Linked DNA regions of Homo sapiens: region 2 is linked to region 1. Evidence: fine-mapped expression QTL. Tissue or cell type: whole blood. Region 1 holds a variant in brackets; the other region holds the start of a gene. All regions are shown on one strand. Distances are from middle to middle.

What was found. PIP is the estimated chance that this variant, and not a neighbour inherited with it, causes the effect.
Region 2: it holds the start of CAMKK2, and the variant in region 1 is fine-mapped to the expression of CAMKK2 in whole blood (INTERVAL, PIP above 0.99).

Annotation. Positions count from the first base shown.
Region 1 is chr12:121,189,910-121,195,205 of GRCh38, reverse strand. The region is part of intron 2 of LOC105370032 (a long non-coding RNA gene); the gene reads left to right. Among named protein-coding and RNA genes, the nearest start is that of P2RX4, 18 kb to the left of the region's middle. RefSeq lists an enhancer at 4,778-5,278. The variant A/TA (reference allele first, on the strand shown) is at 2,109.
Region 2 is chr12:121,294,584-121,299,583 of GRCh38, reverse strand. It overlaps CAMKK2 (calcium/calmodulin dependent protein kinase kinase 2), which reads left to right and starts at 2,875. Exons shown (of 17, transcript NM_001270485.2): 1 at 2,875-2,946. RefSeq lists a silencer at 2,190-3,339.

The DNA of each region.
Region 1 (5,296 bases):
TGATAGCTTGATAGCTTGAGTGAGGCCCTTTCTGAGAAAGTCCATCTGAGCTGAGATCTGGATGTCAGGAAGGAGCTAGCTCTCTGAATACTTTTCCTAGGAGAAAGTATTCTAGGCAAAGGGAATAGCAGGTGCAGAGTCCCTGAGGTAGGAATGAGCTTGATATGTTCCAGGAACAGAAGGAAAGTCAATATGAATGGAGCATAGTGGGCAAGGAGGAGAGTGATGTGAGCTAACCCCTTGAGAGACAGTCAGAGGCCAGATCGAGTAGGGCCTTCGAGGCCAGAGTATGGACTTCAGCCTTAGCTAATGCAGTACATTCACTGACACCTACGGGTGGTTTGCCAAGCACTTGTCAGGTACAAATTGGTCTCATCTTATACAATGGAGAGAGCATTTTGAGATTATTATCATTATCACTTTTTTTTTTTTTTGAGACAGTCTGGCTCTGTCACCTAGGCTGGCGTGATCTTGGTTCACTGCAACCTCAGCCTCCCAGGTTCAGGCAATTCTCCTTGCCTCAGCCTCCAGAGTTGCTGGGATTACAGGCGCCCGCCTCCATGCCCGGCTCATTTTTGTATTTTTAGTAGAAATGGGGTTTCACCATGTTGGTCAGGCTGGTCTTGAACTCCTGACCTCGTGATCCACCCAGCTCGGCCTCCCAAGGTGCTGGGATTACAAGTGTGAGCCACCGTGCCCATCCCATCCTCACATTTTGAGATTAAAAGTACCTTACAGGCTGGGTGTGGTGGCTCACGCCTGTAATCCCAGCACTTTGGGAGGCCAAGTCAGGAGGATTATTTGAGCCTGGGAGTTTGAGACCAGCCTGTGCAACATGGTGAGACCTCGTCTCTACAAAACATAAAAAATTAGCCAGGCATGGTGGCATGTGCCTGTAGTCCCAGCTACTTGGGAGGCTGAGGCAGGAGGATCAGTCGAGCCCAGAAGATTGAGGCTACAGTGAACTGTGTTCATGCCACTGCACTCCAGCCTGGGTGACAGAGTGAGACCTTGTCTCCAAAAAAATCAAATAAATCAAATAAATAAAAAATTTAAAAGTACCTTAGAGAGCATGCTTAGCCTAATCCTTTTCTTTTGCAAATAAGGAAACGAAGAAGAGTTCTAAAGTGTTCTCACAGCCAGGGTCTGCGCATCCCTGTGCCTCTTCCATAGACAAGCTCCTGAAAAGGAGGACTCAGTTCTTACAATTTCATTCAGATGTTCTTGAAGGAATCTTATCTTCTTATGAACTCCTTTGTAAAGAAAAATTACTCTCGCCCCTCCCATTTACTTTTTTTGTAAATGTAGATTTTTATCAATCGGATTTTCCTTCTTTTTTTTTTTGAGATGGAGTCCTGCTGTGTCGCCCAGGCTGGTGTGCAGTGAGTGGCATGATCTCGGCTCACTGCAACCTCTGCCTCCCGACTTCAAGTGATTCTCCTGCCTGAGCCTCCTGAGCAGCTGGGACTACAGGCGCGTACCACCACACCCAGCTGGTTTTTGTATTTTTAGTAGAGACGGGGTTTCACCACATGGCCAGGCTGGTTTCGAATTCCTGACCTCGTGATCCACCCGCCTCGGCCTCCCAAAGTACTGGGATTACAGGTGTGAGCCACCGTGCCTGGCCCATTAACTATCTTGCTATGGCATCATTTAAAATAGCTGCATACCCTCCTGTTATATGACTGTGCCATAATTTACTTAACCAATCTCCTCCTGTTGGACTCAGAGGAATTTTTAAAAATTCATTTAGCCAGGCTGGGGGTGATGGCTCACACCTATAATCCCAGAGCTTTGAGAGGCCCAGGCGGGAGGATTGCTTGAGGCCAGGAGTTTAAGGCCAGCCTGGGCAACATAGGGAGACCGTATCTCTACAAAACAAAAACAAAAACAACAACAACCAAAAAACAACAACAACAACAAAACCCCCCATATATATATATCTCTCTTCCTTTTCTTTCTATCACCACCACCAATTCAGTAGCACAGGTGGCTTACTGAGTCACTCCTATATAATCCCAGCTGACTTCTAAATGATGTCACTTCCCCAGGCTTCCCCTCCCATCCCACGTCCTCATGTCGGTCTGAGGGATTTTTTTTTTTTTTTT[A/TA]ATTTTTGAGAAGGAGTCTCGCTCTGTCACCCAGGCTGGAGTGCAGTGGAGCGATCTTGGCTCACTGCAACCTCTGCCTCCCAGGTTCAAGCGATTCTCCTGCCTCAGCCTCCCGAGAAGCTGGGACTATAGGTGCATGCCACCACCCCTGGCTAATTTTTTGTATTTTTAGTAGAGACGGAGTTTCACCGTGTAAGCCAGGATGGTCTCCACTTGCTGATCTCATGATCCGCCCGCCTTGGCCTCCCAAAGTGCTGAGATTACAGGCGTGAGCCACTGCACCCGGCTGGGATTTCTTAAGTCACTGCTTTTCTCATGTCCTCTGTCAGCCCCAAGAACGGCTCCATCTTAACTTTGCAACTGGTTCAAACATCTCAGCCTTTTTTTCTTTTTGAAGGTTTCCCCAAATCAGTCCCATTTAATCTCCCTCCACTATGATAGTCATTTGTTTCTGGGCCTGGCTTGTGCTGCTGGTCCTGTTGGGAATGCCTCCTCTCATCCCACTGTTTCCAGCCCCTTCCTCCAGTGAGGGCCCGCTTACATCTCACCAGCTTCATAACCCTCCCAAGGCTGTGCTTGCCTGTGAATTTCGCCTTTCTTTGAGCGTCTGTTTCAGTGAGATGGAACCACCCAGTTTAGGAGGCAGTAAGAAAACAAGCAAGACTGTGTCTCTCACCGCATAGTTGCACTGGCCATCTGACAGGTCCTGGAGCACACTCATTTCTTTTCTTTTCTTTTTTTTTCTTTTTGAGATAGATTATTACTATGTTACCCAGGCTGGCCTCAAACTCCTGGGCTTAAGGGATGATCTCTCGTCGCTGGGACTACATGTGTGTGCTCCTGCACCAGGCTCTGGAACACTCTTATTTCTCTCTCACCCCTCAGCTTTATGTTTTCCATCCCTCTTCCTGGAATGCCCTTCTTTCAACTCATTACAGCTGGCTCCTTCTTGATATTCAGATCTAGTGTAAATGTCACTTCCTTGGAGACACTATCCCTGCCCCTTGTCAGAAGTAACTCCCTTGCTCCTATCACAGCATCCTGCTTGTTTCTTTCAAACTCTGTATCCCAAGCTGTCCTCACTGCATTTCTTTTCACCGTGATTGCCTGTCTGCCCCACTGCACCTAACCTCCCAAAGAGCCTCTCTTATTCACCTGTTCATCCCTAGCTCCTGTACAGTGCTGGGGTGCTCAGTAAGTGTTTGCTGAATGAACAGATGAGATTGGACAGAACGGGGAAGGAGAAGGGAGACATCAAGGTATCCTTTGAATTTCTGGCTTGGGAAGTTGAACTGATGGCAGGTGGTGCTACTGGCTGATCTTGGGAGCTCTGGAAGTCACATGTGGGTGGGGTGAACTGAGATCATGATTTGTCTTTTGTAGCTGTTTGAATTGCCTCTAAACCATTTAAGTATAGAATATCTGGAGGTGGTTAAATATATGGGCCTGGAGCTCGAGAGCAATGCTTGGGCACCATCCAAATCATAAGAATAGCTACCATGGCTAGACATGAGAAGCTGCCCAAAGCCATGTATTAGTCTGTTCTCACACTGCTAATAAAGACATACCAAAGACTGGATAATTTATATAGGAAAGGTTTAATTGACTCACAGTTCCAATGTGTCACCTGGGGAGGGCTGGGGAGGCCTCACAATCATGACAAAGGCAAGGAGGAGCAAAGCCACATCTTACATGGTGGCAGGCAAAACAAGAATGAGAGCCAAGCAAGAGGAGAAACCCCTTATAAAACCCTCAGATCTCGTGAGACATATTCACTACCACGAGAACAATATGGGGGAAACCGCCCCCATGATTCAATTCTCTCCCACCAGGTCCCTCCCACAACACATGGGAATTATGGGAGCTAACAATTCAAGATGAGATTTGGGTGGGGACACAGCCAAACCATATCAGGCCACTTGGCCAATAAGTGACCAAGCCAGGATTTGAACCAGGTGGTTTGTTTCCAGTGCCCATCATACCACTGGACTGAGATAGGTGTGTAAGGGACAAAAACCAAGATGAGTTCCTTGCCTCTGAGGGTCTTATTGTTTTTGGGGGGAAATAAAACATAAATACTCATAACTTACCAGACTGGAAGGGCTTGCATAAGAGCCCTGTTAGTTTTATTTGACCCTTATCCAAGCTTAAGTGCAGTGATTGTTTGGTTAAAATGGTAAGTCAGTGTCAGCCACTTCCTCCGATTCCTGAAGCCTTAGGATCATGTGACCATGATAATTCATTAAAATTAGCTAAGGATGTTGGAAATGCAAAATCCTCTCCATAGATCATCATTTATTTTGGAAATATGATTCATAGCCCTCAGGAATGGAAAACAGGAAGCTGAAAAGTCACAGTAAAAGTGAAAGAAGATAGGAATTTCTAATCTATTCAAAAAAGAGAAGTTGAATCAGGGGATCCTCAGGGATTCCTGAATGATGACTGCATGGGATTAGAACATGGGTTGAGAAACATACAAGCAGCAGAGGGTGAAACCCCACTCGGTGCATTCCAGTGGGTAATTTGAATAAATGGGGGTGGTGGTCATGGTTCCTTATTGCCTCTAGTAGGCAGGGCTTTGTGTAGACCATGACTTTTGGTAGAAGCCAAACGAAGATTAATTTTTTAGGGCTGCTGGTTGGCCTGGAATTAGGGTGTTTTTTTTTTTTGAGACAGCGTTTCGCTCTTGTTGCCCAGGCTGGAGTGCAATGGTGTGATCGTGGCTCACTGCAACCTCTGCCTCCCGGGTTCAAGCAATTCTCCTGCTTCAGCCTCCCAAGTAGCTGGGATTACAGGTGCCCGCCACCACGCCTGGCTAATTTTTTGTATTTTTAGTAGAAACAGGGTTTCACCATGTCGGCCAGGCTGGTCTCAAACTCCTGACCTCAGGTGATCACCCACCTCAGCCTCCCAAAGTGCTGGGATTACAGGCGTGAGTCACCGCACCCAGCTGAAGTAGGGATGTTTTAATAACCTCTTTACCTCAGTGGTGAGGGAGGGATTCCCAGTTCCCACCCCAGGGTTATGGCGGTAGCTGAACACATGACACCCAACACTGGGCAAATGAGATTGGCAGCAGTTTTTGGTCACACACACTCACAGCTCGGGGAGGAAGACCCCACTTGCCGTGCAGGGCCACACAGAAACAGAGTGAACAACCAGGGCCAGTGCGGGGCAGGCTTTGTAGC
Region 2 (5,000 bases), 100 kb before region 1:
CTAACAGTTTGCCATTTGCCTCACAGCCATTTATAAGTACTAAAAGGAATAAAACTTTACAACATTCCTTATGCTCCCTGTCCCGTTCTGTGCTTTTTTCCTTCTTTGTGGCACACTGTCATGAATTTAATGTATATTCTTCTCTTTGACTTTAAAAATCTTGTATGTAAGCATGTGTCCATGAACAGTATCTACTGCATGGGATTTTAAGGTACACACAAATTGTACATCATGTTGTATTCTGCAACTTGCTGTTTTACTCAACATTATGTTTTTGGGATTTCCTTATGTCAGTACAGATCCAGTGCACCCCTTTTATCTATTAGATGGTATTCCATCAAACAACTATAATGAGTTTCATTTATCCATTCCTTTGATGAACATATAGGAAGTTGTTCCCAGGTGGTTTTTTTTTTGTGTTTTTGTTTTGTTTTGTTTTGTTTTTGAGATGGAGTCTTGCTCTGTCACCCAGGCTGGAGTGCAGTGGCATGATCTCGGCTCACTGCAACCTCTGCCTCCCGGGTTTCAAGCGATTCTCCTGCCTCAGCCTCCTGAGTAGTTGGGATTACAGGCGCGCGCCACCATGCCTGGCTAATTTTTGCATTTTTTTTTTAAGTAGAGACGGGGTTTCACCATGCTGGTCAGGCTGGACTTGAACTCCTGACTTCGTGATCTGCCCACCTTGGCCTCCCAAAGTGCTGGGATTACAGGCGTGAGCCACTGTGCCCAGACTTTTTTTTTTTTTTTTGAAACAGTCTTGGTCTGTCGTCCAGGCTGGAGGGTAGTGGTGCGATCTCTCTGCCTCCCGGTTCAAGTGGTTCTCGTGCTTCAGCCTCCTGAGTAGCTGGGATTACGGGCACCGCCACCACACCGGGCTAATTTTTGTATTTTTGATAGAGATGGGGTTTCACCATGCTGGCCAGGCTAGTCTCGAACTTCTGGCCTCAAGTGATCTCTCCGCCCGGGCCTCCCAAAGTGCTGGGATCATAGGCGTGAGCCACCATGCCCGGCCTCAGGTTTTTGCCATTTCCAGCAAATGCATGCACGTTGAGTAACATCAGAAGAGGTGGATGGCCGAGCATGTTGGCTCATGCCTATAATCCCAGCACTTTGGGAGGCAGAGGCAGGAGGATCACTTGAGCCCAGGAGTTTGAGACCAGCCTGGGCAACATAGGGAGAACTCTGTCTCTACAAAAAATAGAAAAAATTAGCCAGGTGTGGTGGTGTGTGCCTGTAGTCCCAGCTACTCAGGAGGCTGAGGCTGGAGGATCACCTGAGCCTGGGGAGGTCGAGGGTGCAGCGAGCCGTGATCGTGCTACTGCACTCCAGCCTGGGCAACACAGAGAGACCCTGTCTCAAAACAAACAAACAAACAAACAAACAAACAAACAAAAAAAACAAAGAAAAAAAAATGGGAGTGGGCCGGGCGCGGTGACTCACACCTGTAATCCCAGCACTTTCGGAGGCCAAGGCGGGTGGATCACGAGGTCAGGAATTCAAGATTAGCCTGGACAACATGGTGAAACCCCATCTCTACGAAAAATACAAAAATTAGCCAAGTATGGTGGCCGGCGCCTGTAATCCCAGCTACTCGGGAGACTGAGGCAGAGAACTGCTTGAACCTGGGAGGCAGAGGTTGCAGTGATCCGAGATCGCGTCACTGCACTCCAGCGTGGGCGACAGAGCGAGACTCCGTTTCAGAAAAGAAAAAAAAAAAAAAAAAAAAGGGAGTCGGGGTGGAGCTCTCATTGGCTCGTTGCATGTGAGTGTCCCTACGGCCTAGAAATACAAGAGAAGCACATCGGAACGGGCTGGAAATCCACCCAGTTAACTAGAGGGCTTTGAACCTTTTATTAACTTGGAGGTTGACTCTCCTGTCAACTCGATTCCCTTTTGGCTGTTTGGCAGGGTCAGTGAGACATCCCCTGGGTCGCTCGACCCCGTAGGACGGTTCAGGGAGCCCTCCAGGTCTTCGTTTCTCCTCTTCCCCGCACAGTGCTGTTATCCAGCTGGGGGATCCAACGCACACTTAAGGCTCCAGCAAAGTAAGTGCCAAAAAGGGGAGAATGGGAAGAATATGCTGTATTTCACAAAAAGCATCTAAGTAGCCATCTGGAAAAGCCAGAATGAACTTCAATGGTGCATCCAGGTGGGCTGGGGATGGGAGAGGAACGCCTTCCCCCAGCCTTTAGGGCCGGCCCTGAGCAAGTGGTCAGTCGGCAGGCAGCTGCGGAAGGGGGCTCCCCCGAGTCGGTGGTGGCCCAAAGTCCAGGCCGCATCCACCGCCCGGCGCCTAGCGCAGGGGCAGCAGCCGGGTCGCCACAGGAGGGGCCCCGGGTGTTCTTGCCGGCTTGGGGGAACTTTCCCAGGGTCAGCCCGGAGGCGCCCTGCAGCCCCGGCATTTGGCTAAACAAAGCAAGCGCTGCCGGCGCGGCCCGCCCGAGGGCGCCGCGGGAAGAACCTGGGCAGGTGCGCGCCGCGGGCGAGCGGGTACAAAGTTGCGGCGCCACCTCCTGCGCTCCGCGCCCCTCCAGGCTCTCCTCCCAGCCGCCTCCGATCCTCCCGGCCGGGCCTCTCTTCCCCCGTTCTTCGCCTCCTCCCTTTCTGCTCCTTGCCCTTCGCCTCTTCGCTACTTTCGTCTTTGCAGGCTCCCGCCTCCCCACCCCTCCCCGGCGCAGGGCCGAGCCGGCGGGGGCGCGCAGGGGGCGGTGCGCGGCGGGCGCGGGCGGTTCCGCTTTCGGGTTTCCCGCCGCCGTGGCCAATCCCCGCGCTGCCCGGGGCGGCGACGCGCCCAAGCCGAGCCGGGCGGCTCCTCCCGCCCCCGCCCCCCGCGCGCCCGCCGCCCGGGCGGAGGAGAGGAGCGCGCGGCCGCGCAGAGCAAGCTGAGCCGAGCCGAGCCGAGCTGGGGGCGCAGAGCGCGGGAGGCGGCGGCGGCGCGGAGCCCAGGTGAGCTGGCGGTAGCCGGGCCCGGGGCAAGGGACGCAGCCGCCGCGGCCCCGGGCGCCCGCTCCGTTTCCCTCTCGAGGCGGGGGACCGCCGCCGGCATGGCACACAAAGCCCGGAGGCTGGCCTGGGGCTCCCAACACGGAGGGACCCCACGTGCGCCTCCCCACGCCCCGCCACGTGGAGGGACACGGTCCCCGACAGCCCTTCCCCCGCGTCCTCTGGGCGCCCTGGGCCTCGGGATGGCCTCCTCGGCTGGGCCGCGCCCTGTCCGGGTGGCAGGGGCGGTCCTGGAGTTTGGAACCGGGGTCACCGGGGGCCGGGTCCGTCAGGGTTCGTGGAGGCGGCCTAGGCCCAGCCCCTCGCGTTTGACAGGTGGGGAAATCTGGAGCGTTCCGGGGAAGAGAGGACCAGCGGACTTGGAGCACCCCCACCCCGCAGCCTGCCTGTCTCGGGGCAAACCCAGGCCCTGGTGGCTTGGACACCAGGTGGCAGGACCCTAGGCCAGCAGTTGTGGGGACCTAGGGGACCTTTGGCTGTCTTCGGTCTGCCCTTTGACCACCCCCACCGCACCTCTTCTCTCAGCCGGAGCCTCACAGGCTTGGTCCTTCTGACCTAAATTCACCTCGGGGTTGCAGTATGCTGTGAATGCGGAGAGGCGTCCGCCTGACTCTCAGGGACACTGGACCCAGCCCCTCTCAGCATTGGGGCTCTGTGCCTGGGGTGCCACCCGACCCAGCCTTGAGCTTTTCCTGGCTTTCCCCCAGCCCCTGCACTGCCTAGCTGGGGAAGTGGGTGCTTTCACAGCTCTGCCAGCCTGCCCTCCTGGCCACTCTCACTTAGTGCTGGACAGGATGCAGCTCAGCCCCTCCGATCTCCCCGAGAAGGCTGAGCTTTGGGGAGGGCGTCTCAGTGCTATCAGCAAGAGAGGGATACCTGGCCTCCGGATGGGACCTGCAGCGTCCATCTCCCTACAGGCTACTTTTACCTTCCCCAGCCTGGTGTTTGGAGTCTCCACGCAGGGGATAGAAACTTCAGGTGCCCTAGAGCTGTGCTGCCATTTACCACTCCCCCTCCCCTAGCTCTGCCCCCAGAGGAGAGAGAAGAGGATGGCTTTATGTCCCCATAAGCTCCTTTGTTCCTTGGAGGAGGCGGGGGCTGCAACAAGGGGAGGGCTTTGGGGGAGTTAGCCACCCTCTTCCCTAATCACCCCACAAAAACATGCAGTTTCAGAATAAATAGTGTGCATGCCATGCAAATGCAGCTTTAGGGCAAGCCCCACATACCCCTTCCAGACTGCTGCTCATACACCCTTCCTATGGAGGAAGCAGGCATTGGTGACACACACCCTTCCTATGGAGGAAGCAGGCATTGGTGATGAGGACGCAAAACATATTTTTGTAATGAAGAGTAATAGCCATCATTTGATGAGCCCCTAACTTGGATAATAATAAGAATACTTATTTATTTATTTTGAGACGGAGTCTCTGTTGCCCAGGGTGGAGTGCAGTGGCACAATCTTGGCTCACTGCAACCTCCGCCTCCCGGGTTCAAGCGATTCTCATGCCTCAGCCTCTCCAGTAGCTGGGATTACAGGCGCCCACCACCATGCCTGGCTAATTTCTGTATTTTTAGTAGAGAAGGGGTTTCACCATGTTGGTCAGGCTGGTCTTGAACTCCTTACCTCAAGTGATCCGCCTACGTCAGTCTCCCAAGTGCTAGGATTACAGGCATGAGCTGCCACCTGGCCCTGGACAATAATAATAATAACAGTATTAAAAACTAACATCTATTGAGTTCTTGCTGCCTGCCAGATTCTGTGCTATGTGTTACATGCATTATCTCATTTAATGCCTACCAAATCCTACAACGTAGGGAATTTTAACCCCATAGTAGAGATTAGGAGACTGAGGTTTACAGAAATCCTGCAGTGTTGCTAGGATTTAGCCCCATTTTATAGAAGGGCTCAGAGAAGTTAAGTAACTTGCTCAGGGTCACACAGCCAGTGCAGGCATGTCAGGCCTTAGAACCTTTGTGCACCTGTTCAAGAGCAGAGA